Homo sapiens: one gene and its partners. The protein of the gene in region 3 purifies or fractionates together with the protein of the main gene of each other region. This does not show direct contact. Each region holds a gene or a part of one and is shown on either strand. Other genes may lie near its edges.

The links.
Region 1: the proteins of AKR1B10 (region 3) and POTEF purify together in Homo sapiens (affinity purification with mass spectrometry; 3 studies listed by BioGRID and IntAct, with this or other methods). This does not show direct contact.
Region 2: the proteins of AKR1B10 (region 3) and COX17 fractionate together in Homo sapiens (co-fractionation; one large-scale study listed by BioGRID). This does not show direct contact.

What each region holds. Positions count from the first base shown.
Region 1 is NC_000002.12:130,122,669-130,126,323, forward strand, and holds part of POTEF (POTE ankyrin domain family member F), read right to left. Parts: intron 1-3,655.
Region 2 is NC_000003.12:119,669,549-119,673,303, reverse strand, and holds part of COX17 (cytochrome c oxidase copper chaperone), read left to right. Parts: intron 1-3,638; 3' UTR 3,639-3,755.
Region 3 is NC_000007.14:134,525,993-134,529,747, reverse strand, and holds the start of AKR1B10 (aldo-keto reductase family 1 member B10), read right to left. Parts: upstream 2,182-3,755; 5' UTR 1,837-2,181; coding exon 1,771-1,836; intron 1-1,770. UniProt on the Homo sapiens protein: Catalyzes the NADPH-dependent reduction of a wide variety of carbonyl-containing compounds to their corresponding alcohols. Displays strong enzymatic activity toward all-trans-retinal, 9-cis-retinal, and 13-cis-retinal.

The DNA of each region.
Region 1 (3,655 bases), on a different chromosome or scaffold from region 3:
TAGGACTTTTTCTATTTGTCACTTTCAATTTCTTTCATCAATGTGCTATAATTTTCAGTATACAAATCGTTCACATCCTTCATTAAAATTACTCCTTGCTCTTTGATTTACTTATATATTTGTTTTGTTGCTATTATAAATGGAATTACCTTATTTTTCAGATAACAGTTTGTCATTGGTGTATAGAAGCCAATGTTAATTTTGTAACTCTCAACTTTATTGAATATAGTGTTTATCAGCTGTAATGGGTTTTTTGTGGAGTCTAAAACACAGACAATCTCACCCCTTCCCTTCCTATTTAGATGCCTTTCCTTTCTTTGCCTTGTATAATTACTCTGGCAAGTCAGTTACATATAACGTTCTCAGCATTTGTAATTTGACATCAAATCCATCTGTTGTAATACACTGATTGTTACTTTTCAACTCGAAAACATGGACATTTATCACTACTCTCCCTTTCTCTTGGTCTAGTTGTTATTTAAAAAAAAACCTATCAATGCAAACCAGGATATTTTTCTACAAAACAATTTCAAACACACTAAAAGGTTTTAATCTAACAATTTTTAAACTTTCTTTGTCAATGACTTTGAACTGTGGTCTCTCGGAACAAATCCAACACCTTTAGTAGAAAAATTATGTTAATTCCTACATTATCATTGGGTCTAGCCAAGAGTTGACCAAAGGTGATATTAACAGATATGCTTATTTATTACCTTGTTCTCAAAGTTCTAGCATAAGTCTTGAAAAATCTAGTAAAAATTTGTAAAGACTATAATTGCACAAACTCCCTCTCTCATGAGTCACACAGTTAATCCAGAATACTATTTCTAAGTTATTGGAAAGCCAACAAGTAAATATGATGTAGTGTATAAAAATAATCCTAATTTCATTGTATATTCTGTAAGTGACATATGCAATTGATACTATTTACTAAATATCTCATAATTATATTTATTTACATAGAAAAAAGGAATAAAAAACATATCTATTATCTAACATTTAAATGATTAAAAATACTTGAGATAGCATTGCTACATAAATGCTATGTAAATGCTGAAGAAAGTAAAAATGTCATTCCCTACATTTGCTAAATATATTGTGACACATTATAAGCATTTTTAAAATATATCACTAATGGTTGGGTCAAGTCAGCAAAAATGATTCTAAGTATTTAATTGTGGAAAAATTTAGTACAGGGGATAGTATTCATGTGATGGAAGGATTTTAAATGGAACCCAGAGATTAGCAGCAGCAGTAAGTTTTAATTGCATACCAGGTGCAGAGTCTAGGATACAAGACAGAACTGCAGATAAAATCTGACTCCTTCCAGCATAGCTAGGAGACATGGCTAACTCCACCTGTCCGGAGACCTTACCTAGAAATCTAACGGCTCCAAACCAGGTAAACAAAACTATTTTCCAAAGTCAAAGCATCAATTTATGACATTAAAGCACTTCTAAAACTTAACCTCTGACTTAAGTTAGACCAAATGGATAAATTTTGAAGATATTTTTATTTTACCACTGACTTTAACACCATCTTTATTTCCCAAAGATTACTGAAGTCACATGAAATAAAAGGCATTAGAGCTTCTATTTTTCTTACAAAATATTTAAGAGCTTTCATTTTCTTTTAAGCCGAGCCATTATATATACATCACATACACAACACTTCTAGACAAGAAAAGATCTAGCAGTTGTTCAGTTTTTCTTTCCCACTTTATGAATCATAACACAACTTCCACAGACTATCTACAACATGATTAAATTTATCTGACCTGTCCTGTATTTCCCTCTTTTGTAATTAGTCATTCTACTTTAGGACAACAATTTGCCATATAAGATCCTCTCTCATATAACATTTCTTTCCTTCATAACATTTCTTACAATAAATACATCTTCATATCCACAATTTTCTTTAGATCTCTCTCCCCTACTAATTTCTGATGCCCATCCAAACCAAAAAGGTCAGACAACGCAAGGCAAAACAGAGCAGAGCCTTAGATTTTTGAGAGGGACCTGTCTGCTTAAAGTTCTTGGGGTTCCATGAGGAAAACAGAGGTTTCTCCTAAAATGGGGTTTGTGGAACCTTCTGTTTTTCCTTAAGGAGTCCCAGGTTGTCAGAAATTACCTTAGATCCTCTCATGTGGGCATCAAGAGTGGCAACAAGAGAGACTGGGGTAATAATTCAGACAACTGAGCAGAAAAAGAAAAACTTACTACTGTCCCCACTGTAATGATGGATAAACTGAGGCACCATGCAGTTCAAAAATTCATGTTCACATAATTAGGATCCACAGCTCACTCTCTTAAATAATTTTGCCACCTCTATGCCCAGTCACTGATGCACCTGTATGGTAGCTCATGGCCCCCTTGGAACTTAGAACCTGGGTTTCATTCCTGCTCTACGGCTATATAATTCAACAATTTTCCTTTGAATTTGTTGGACTCTAACCCTGTATATCTCAAATTTTATTAGTATTACTGAATCTTAAAGGGAGCTGTGACGTCTTTAGTCTTTAGAAATATTAAACCTATAAACAAGGACTATATGAGGTTAAACAGTATTCAAATTTCTATATGCTTTAAAACATGGACACAATGTATTGAGAAACACACCTACAAAACTGCACCCCATCAACTCTGGACAAAAATTTAGATATTATCTCTTCAATATAACCTATCTAGTGGTATTTATACATATTCTTCCATGTATCAACGGTATATTACATGCTCATAACCTTAAAAATAACAAGTGTTCAAATTATAGGCCTTACACATTTCTACGGGCTTGAAAAATGATACAATATAGATTGTCTTTAAAGCAGTCAAGAAAATGCATAAACTTCTAGAGGAATCAGTAAAATAAAGATAAAAAGTTCACACCTAAAGTAGTAATACTAGGAATAAAAGAGGGCTCGACACTGCAGGTTCTTAGATACAAAAGTTAATAAAGCCTTGTTTTTGGTTGTGAATCTTTGCCTTAAAATACACACAGCTGACCGAGGTGGGTGGATCACCTGAGGTCAGGTGTTCTAGGCCAGCCTGGCCAACAGGGTGAAACCCCATCTCTACTAAAAATACAAAAAGTAGCCGGGCGTGGTGGCAGGCACCTATAATCCCAGCTACTCAGGGGGCCAAGGCAGGAGAACTGCTTTCACCCAGGAGGCAGGGGTTGCAGTGAGCCAAGATCGGGCCATCGTACTACAGCCTGGGGGACAAGAGCGAGACTTCATCTCAAAAAAAAAAAAAATTACACACAATTCTCCCGACTTCCTTTTTCTCTTGCAAAGAGGTGGTGATGAACCAGGTTTGCTCAGGCAGATGACAATACTCTTGAAAATGGTGGCAGAGAGCCAGGCGTGGTGGCTCACACCTCCAATCCCAGCACTTTGGGAAGCTGAGACAGGTGGATCACTTGAAGTCGGGAGTTCAAGACCAGCCTGACCAACATAGAGAAAACCCATCTCTATTAAAAACACAAAGTTAGCTGGGCATGGTGGCACATGCCTGCAATCCCAGTTACTCAGGAGGCTGAGGCAGGAGACTTGCTTGAACCCAGGAAGCGGAGGTTGCAGTGAGCCGAGATCGCCCCATTGCACTCCAGCCTGGGCAACAAGAGCAAAACTCCATCTCAAAAAAAAAAAAAAAAAAAA
Region 2 (3,755 bases), on a different chromosome or scaffold from region 3:
CACTACCTATAACAGTGCCTGGCTCATAGTAGGTGCTTAATGGAGGATTGTTAAATGAATGAATAAATAAGGAAATTAAAGCTTATAGTTATGAAATGGCCCCCAAGGTGGGTTGTGCAGTATCAGAACTGGAGCCTCAGTCTCCATGCCGATTCCCTCTGCTTTTTGCCCCTACCCTAACTTCCACACCACACTACCACTTTTAACTTAATAACAGCTGAGAGAGAATGCCAAAGCCATATGCCAATATATTAGTACTAGAGAGCCTGGCTTCTTTCCCTTGCACCTCTTTCCTGCCTCTTTGGAATTTCACATATGGCCAGTCTTCCTCACTGAGCTATAAAAAAGGAGGGATAAGGAACTTGTCGCAAGCTGATAAGAAGTTACTGTGTAATGGAAAACAGTCTAGGCTGAAAGTCCTGAGGCTTTGTTTTTATTCTCCTGATGTTTAGTTTATCATGTTTTTAAGTTTAGCTACATTTAGCTTCATCAAGACATTACTCCTCTGAATTTCACTTATTATTTATAAAAAGAGAACCATAATACATTTTGTGATTCTATATATAGTATGGTATATCTACTGTTGTGTAAATGATATACTTAAGTTGCTTTTAGAATAGATGGTTATTTAAAGAAATCCCATAATGAACTATTTTATAAAATAAGTAAATTTGAAGGGGAGTGTGTTCTTAAAAAGTATGTGTACTTTATTAACTATTTTTAAAGATGCAACCTTAACATTTGTACATGGTTTCCTTGTTCATGATCTAACTCCCTCGTCAGTTGTGTAAGCTGTAGGCTTGTGCTGAACTTGCCTTGATAAAAAGGGGTGATTAAATAAAAAGAAATGCTAATTTTAGGAATATCAAAAGCTTATCTTGGACTTCATCTGAACCACAAAGGTGGTACAATTGTTATAAGTGGCATATATTCAAAAGTATCATATGATATCATAGTTTTCTTTATGTTATCAGGGCAGAGAGTGAGAATTATGTTTGTGTACTTCATTTGTGTGTAAAAGAAAATGCAAAAGCTTTAGACTTAGAAAATCTACTGCTTAACTGATTGTGTGGTCTTGGGCAGGTCCTTAACTTTCTGTACCTTGGTTTCCTCATCCGTAAAATGGAGACAATAATACATGCCCAAACTACTTCATAGAGTTGTGATGATTCAATGTAAAATAAATCATCTGTAAAAACCAGAACAGAATAGCTCATACCTTTAGAGTTGTGGATAGCAGACATTCAGTTGAGGTCTGTTAAGTATATGACTTGATTATTATTGAATCCTGGTTACAAGAAGAACAATCTGAATCCATATAGGACCCTTCTGAGAATTCAAACTGCCATGTTTTTCATTTTCAGTGTAATAATATTTTGGGAAGAGGACTGGGTGTTGGATCCTTATTGGTCCCAGGTGTCCTATTTCCCCAACCTCCATGGGGAAATGGAAGCACAGTGAAGTCAAAAAAGACTTGCTCAAGTTAGGAGTGGATAGTGGTAGAATTAGATTAGAGTTAAGATTTTTATATTCTCTAAATCACAGGCACTTTACACTTCACGCCTTGTACTTAATGAGATTTTATTCCAACATATTCATTTTTAGGATTGCACATAATCTTGATCTTCAATCTTAAAACCTCATTATGAATGCTAATTAGAAAGACTTGTTGCGGAAATGTACAGTTGCATATAACCCAGTAAACAGGCCATTGGCTGGAGGGTGAAATCCAACACAACTGTCTGCATTGCTATAAGATAAACTTAACCTAAATCGGTATTTCTTAGACTGTTAGATCACATTTTTCTGAGAATAGCTTCAAAGGAAAAATATTTTGCAAACTTAGATCTCTCTGGCAACGATCATGAAAGTTCCTTAATTCAAAAACCTTTGTAGATTTTAATGTTATTCCTAAGTAGATCTTAATTGTACCTCAAGTGCAGTAGATTGGGAATAAATCTATTATACATTTTTTATACCTTACCTGAAAGTAGGCTACATTCACCCAGTGGTTCTTACCCAGAGGTGCACCTCAGAATCATCTGAAGAATGTTTTCCAGAATTCACAACTTGGGCCCTGGTCTGCACCTGTTGACTGAGAAACTCCTAGATGATTTTCAAGTGCACTCCTCTTTAACAACCACTGGCCTAAGTTGAAGATGAATAGCAGGGATAATGCTAGGCATAAAGTATCTGAAAATTTAGTAGTAGCAAAGGCAGAGACTTGAAAACTCAAGAAAAAATAGGTATGGTGGTGATTTTAGACAATTTTTTTCTATTTTATGACTGCTGCTTTTACTGAAAAGAGTAATTAGAAGAACCTAGAACCTCATTAGAAATATGAGGAAATAGATGGCTACTATCTTCCTGCCTTTAGGAGACAGAAGAAGCCTAAAGAACCTATTTTGGAGACTAAAGTCGTTGAAAGAAATTAAAGGACTAGTACTGAATAGTGGTGATACTCAATATTAAGTTTAACAACTTAACAGTTGGATGCTTAAAATATGCTGAATTGTACACACACACACACACACACACACACACACACACAAAACTGATCATGTATGAAAATATCCCAAGATAATCCAGAAAGAATAATTTCTGCCATTCAAACATTTGTTCATTCAGCAGATATTTATTAAGACCCTGGAAAATACTGAGGAGAGAAAGATTATCCCTCCAGTCAAAGACTTTACATCCAGAGATATAATCAAACAGGTTTAAATCCAGGGTCTTCCACCACACAGCCCCTTTTGTTATGTAGTCAGTCGCAAAAGTCGTAACAATGCTATGGGCTGCTATAATTGAAAGGTTGAATGGCTTCGTTTTTGGTTATCTTTCCAAACTTTTCTATAAATGTATTCTTCCTTTGAGTCTTTTAGAAAAGAGTTTAGATGTTTGTATCTTGATGTGGTTTATCTTTATTTAAACCAAATGAAGTGAACAGCTAAATGAAGGAAATATTTGCATTAGACTTGAAGAGTTAGCTACCCCAATTTAATTACCTTCCTAGCATTGTTCTCAATCTTCTGGGATAGGCACTGGGAGAGGTGTGAGAAGCCTGGTATTGACTTGACTGGATCAGCAACCCTATCTATGCTACTCTCCCTTTTTGATTTTTCCAAATGAATATTAAAGGGTTGCCCTTGTCTTGCCTTTGGGATTAAGTGAGTAACTTTCCACAGGAAGTGCCTTGGGTACTGAGCTGACCTTCTGCCTTCTACTTTGTGGATCTTCGCCAGGCATACTTGAATCAGCAAAGAGGGGTTTGCAGGTCTTGTTTCTTGAATATCTGTAAAAATAACTGCTTTAGCCTTTTTTGGAGGATATTTTTGAGAAATATGTATTTCTCAAACACACACATATGTATTATATATATATACACGCAGAGAGAGTTTTTACTTCAAAAACTTTTAAAGAGTAAATAATATCATGAATAATTTCACTAATGTTTTTAGTTAGGCAAACCTAGAATTTTAAAATGTTGATTTTGAATTTTATGACTGATTTGGAATAATTCTGGCAATTAGTTAATTACTCATCTGAGGCATTCATTTCTAGTGGTCTTAATTCCCTGACTCCATAGATCTGGCATGATGTTTGAAATCTGACTTTCTAAAATAAATATTTTTCTGTAGGTGGTCTGCTGTGTGAATAAATAATTCCTGAAGAATGAAGAAGATTAATTTTGGGAGTTCTTTGACGAACTTTGATATGTGGAAAAAGTATTTATAATTTATTGTAAGAAGAAAGTA
Region 3 (3,755 bases):
TGTTCTAACCTAGCCAAGCCAATGATGGGGGCAAAAAAGCACTTAAAACTTGATCTCTCACAAAATGGTCTTTTAAACCTCTTCAATTGTGAGATAACAAACATTGAACAGTACACAAAACAGAGATGCACAGCTACCCTACCACCTGGACAAGAAACGAGCTGCTGCCAGGCACCCAGAAGCAGCCCTGTGCCCCCAACCGCTACGCTACACCCTTCTTCACCTCCACTGCTAAGTTCATAATCCTTTAGTCTATCATCCCCACGTGTTGAAGACAGCTCCCTTCATAATTCTTTCATTCAATTCCAAAATTATGAAACTGTCTGGTAAACTCACCCAGGGTGAGTAGATTCCCTGGAGATCTGGAAGTGATTATTTATTCTGTTTATACAGGATTGAAGGTCTGATTTTGGGCAAATCTTGCTATTCAAGCAAGAGACGCTCTGCATGAATCAAGCTGGAAGTGATCTGTTCCTCCAGATACACCAAGAATGTATCCTGAGGATGACCCAGTGCTGCAGCAGAGGGTCCTAACCTCTAGCTTGGGACAGAAGAGAAGAAAAATCAGGGTGCACAGAAGGAAAGAGAGCCAGAGGCAGAAGTCTCAGCAGGGACATTAGCCATGAGGGACAGGAGAGAAGAGGAACTCCAAAGACTGCTTCTCATCACTAGTTAGGGTAGTGCTATCATGGATGGAAATGGCAAAGAAGGCAGAGGGAGGTGGTGATGGAACAACTTGAAACTTAGCCTAACAGAGGCTCGGGAACCTGCCTCACTGAGTCCTGGATGTGCCTTACCACATTTTGCCAGCTGTCGTTAACACAGCCGGGTGGTGCTCACGACTCCCAGCCCAGGCTCTCTGCAGCCCCAGCATGTTGCAGATTTCAATGTGTACAGGAACCACGTAGGGATCTTGTTAAAGTGCAGATGCCCATTAGGTAGCCTGGGTTGGAGCCTGAGACTCTGCATTTTGTTTCTCTCTGTCTCTCTTTCTTTCTCTCTCTCTCTTTCTCTCTTTCTTGCTTTCTTGGATCTCACTCTGTTGCCCAGACTGGAGTGCAGTGGCACAATCACTGCTCATTGCAGCCTTGACCCCTCAGGCTCAACACTCAATCTCCACCTCAGCCTCCCAAGTGGCTGGGACTACAGGTGCGTGCCACCATGCCCAGAAAATTTATTTATTTTTTGTAGAAATGGATTCTTGCCATGTTGCCCAGGCTGGTCTCCAACTCCTGGGCTCAAGCAACCCTCCCGTCTGGATTTCCCAAAGTGCTGGGATTACAGGGATAAGCCACCACACCTGGCCAGTTTGCATTTCTAGCAAGTTTCCAGGTCATAGGGATGCTGCTAGCCCAAGTCTCACACCGTGATCTGCAAAGGGGTGCCAAGGACTTCGGGCTCTGCATCCTCTCCTCAACCACCCAGCCCACAACAAACCCACAGCCAAGACTTGGGGGAAACGTTGAGCCCAATTAAGTGTCCTAGAACCAGAGAGAGAAACTGCCCTGGAAAACAGTTTTAAGTCCAACAGCTGCTTGAAATTTGATACTTGCTAGAGAAGCTCTCATCACTGCTGGGAAAGCCAGCCTTGGAGCTTTGCAGCCTGAATCAGCTCTGAGAAAAGAAAGCAACCTAAGTCCTGGCTCCAGGGCTGAATCTTACCTCTCCAACCCCTGCCCGACCTCCAGGCTTTCCTGGCTGAATGCAGAAAGAGAAAACACCCAAACGCCCCTCCAGAGAAGAAGGGTGTGCAAAGATTTGCATATTTACCTTCCAAGTGCCCAGGCCCACAATGGGCATCTTGGCTTTGGTACTGAGCTCCACAAACGTGGCCATGGTTGGTGCAGAAATGATTCTGAGTGAGCAGGTAGAAGTCTCACGTCCTGCTCTCTGTTGCTGTTTTTGAGACAGTCTTGCACTGTTGCCAAGGCTAGAGTGCAGTGGTGCGATCTCAGCTCACTACAACCTCTGTCTCCTGGGTTCAAGCAATTCTCCTGCCTCAGCCTCCCGAGTAGCTGGGATTACAGGCGCCCACCGTGACTCCCAGCTAATTTTTATATTGTTAGTAGAGACAGGCTGGTCTCAAACTCCTGAGCTCAGGTGATCCGCCCACCTCGGCCTTCCAAAGTGCTGGGATTACAGGTGTGAGCTACTGTGCCCGGCCACAGGCTGCTTAAGAAGGCTGCTGCTATCTACAGTGGGAGGAGTTGGAGCCTGGCCACAGTAGCTTCCCTGCCATAACCAAACAGGAAATCCATTCCAGGCTTTTGTGAGATTGAGGATTCTGTGAATGAATTATTAAACATGGCAACCTTGTGCAAAGTTCTCTCTTAGGTGACAGTATCATTGGAGTTTCTGCTTGTTCAGGATGAGTCAACAAATTCAACACAGCCAAAAGTTGGAAGGTAGGGAGGGAGACAGCAAGGAAGAAAAGAAGAGTTGGAGGAGGGAGGGAAAGAAGTCTGGCCAACATAGTGAAACCCTGCCTCTACTAAAAATACAAAAATTAGCCGGGCGTGGGGGCACGTATCTGCAATCCCAGCTACTTGGGAGGCTGAGAAAGGAGAATCACTTGAACCTGGGAGGCGGAGGTTGCAATGAGCCTAGATCATGCCACTGCACTCCAGCCTGGGCGACAGACAGTGAGACCCTGTCTCAAAAAAAAGAAAGAAAGAAGGGAAGGCAGGAAGGAAGAAAGGAAAGAAGGAAGGAAGGAAGGAAGGAAGGAAGGAGGGAGGGAGGGAGGGAGGGAGGAAGGAAAGAAAGAAGGAAGGAGAGAAAGAAAGCAAAGCAAAGAAGGAAGAAAAAACAAGGGCTTGCTTTCCCTGTGATGGTTTCCTCTGTGAAATAGAGTCTAGGGAGGAGAGGTGAGAAGCAGCGTTTCAATTTTAAAAGTTGCAATTGCAGGTTCAGTGCAGAGATGGTCAAATCCCGACCTGATTGGAGTCAGCTGTAACTAGTTGGTAGTCAGCAATCTAGGGAACATGATATAGGCCTGTGCCATGCTGTGACACGCCATGACAGGCCAGGGCCACGTCACAGCATCTGTTTCAGCCTGCCGGTAGTGGGTTTTTCTGTCTTTTACATGTTCTTGTTGATGAGTTGGCTTTGGTTGAATCTTGAAATGGAATTGAATCTCTAGGCTGTGGCTTATGACAGCTCATAGAAGGCAATTGGCATGATATTTTGCAACTATGAGTGAAAAATCTTATACTTCATTGATGTTTGTTAAATTATCTACTTCAACATTAATAATAATGCATGGGCCGGGCATGGTGTCTCACACCTGTAATCCCAGCACTTTGGGAGGCCGAGGCAGGTAGATCACTTGAGCTTAGGGGTTTGAGACCAGCCTGGCCAACATGGTGAAACCCTGTCTCTGCTAAAAATCCAAAAATTAGCGAGGCATGATGGCACGTACCTATAGTCCCCGCTGCTTGGGAGGCCTGAGAATCCCTTGAACCTGGGAGGTGGAGAATGCAGTGAGCCAAGATGGTGCCACTGCACTATAGCCTGGGCGACAGAGACAGACTCTGTCCCAAAAATAAATAATTAAATACATGCATTCCTCATAATCTGGTGGCCACAAAGTCTCCTGGATATGCACTTGCGGCACTTTATTTTCCCAGTGTATACTGGATGACATGCAGTGCTAGTATTGTTGAAATAGTAAATCCTTAGTGACTGTCAACCTAAATAACAGAGAGAGGGTCCCTACAAGAAAAATATTTCTCTGGGAATAGAGCACTGCAATG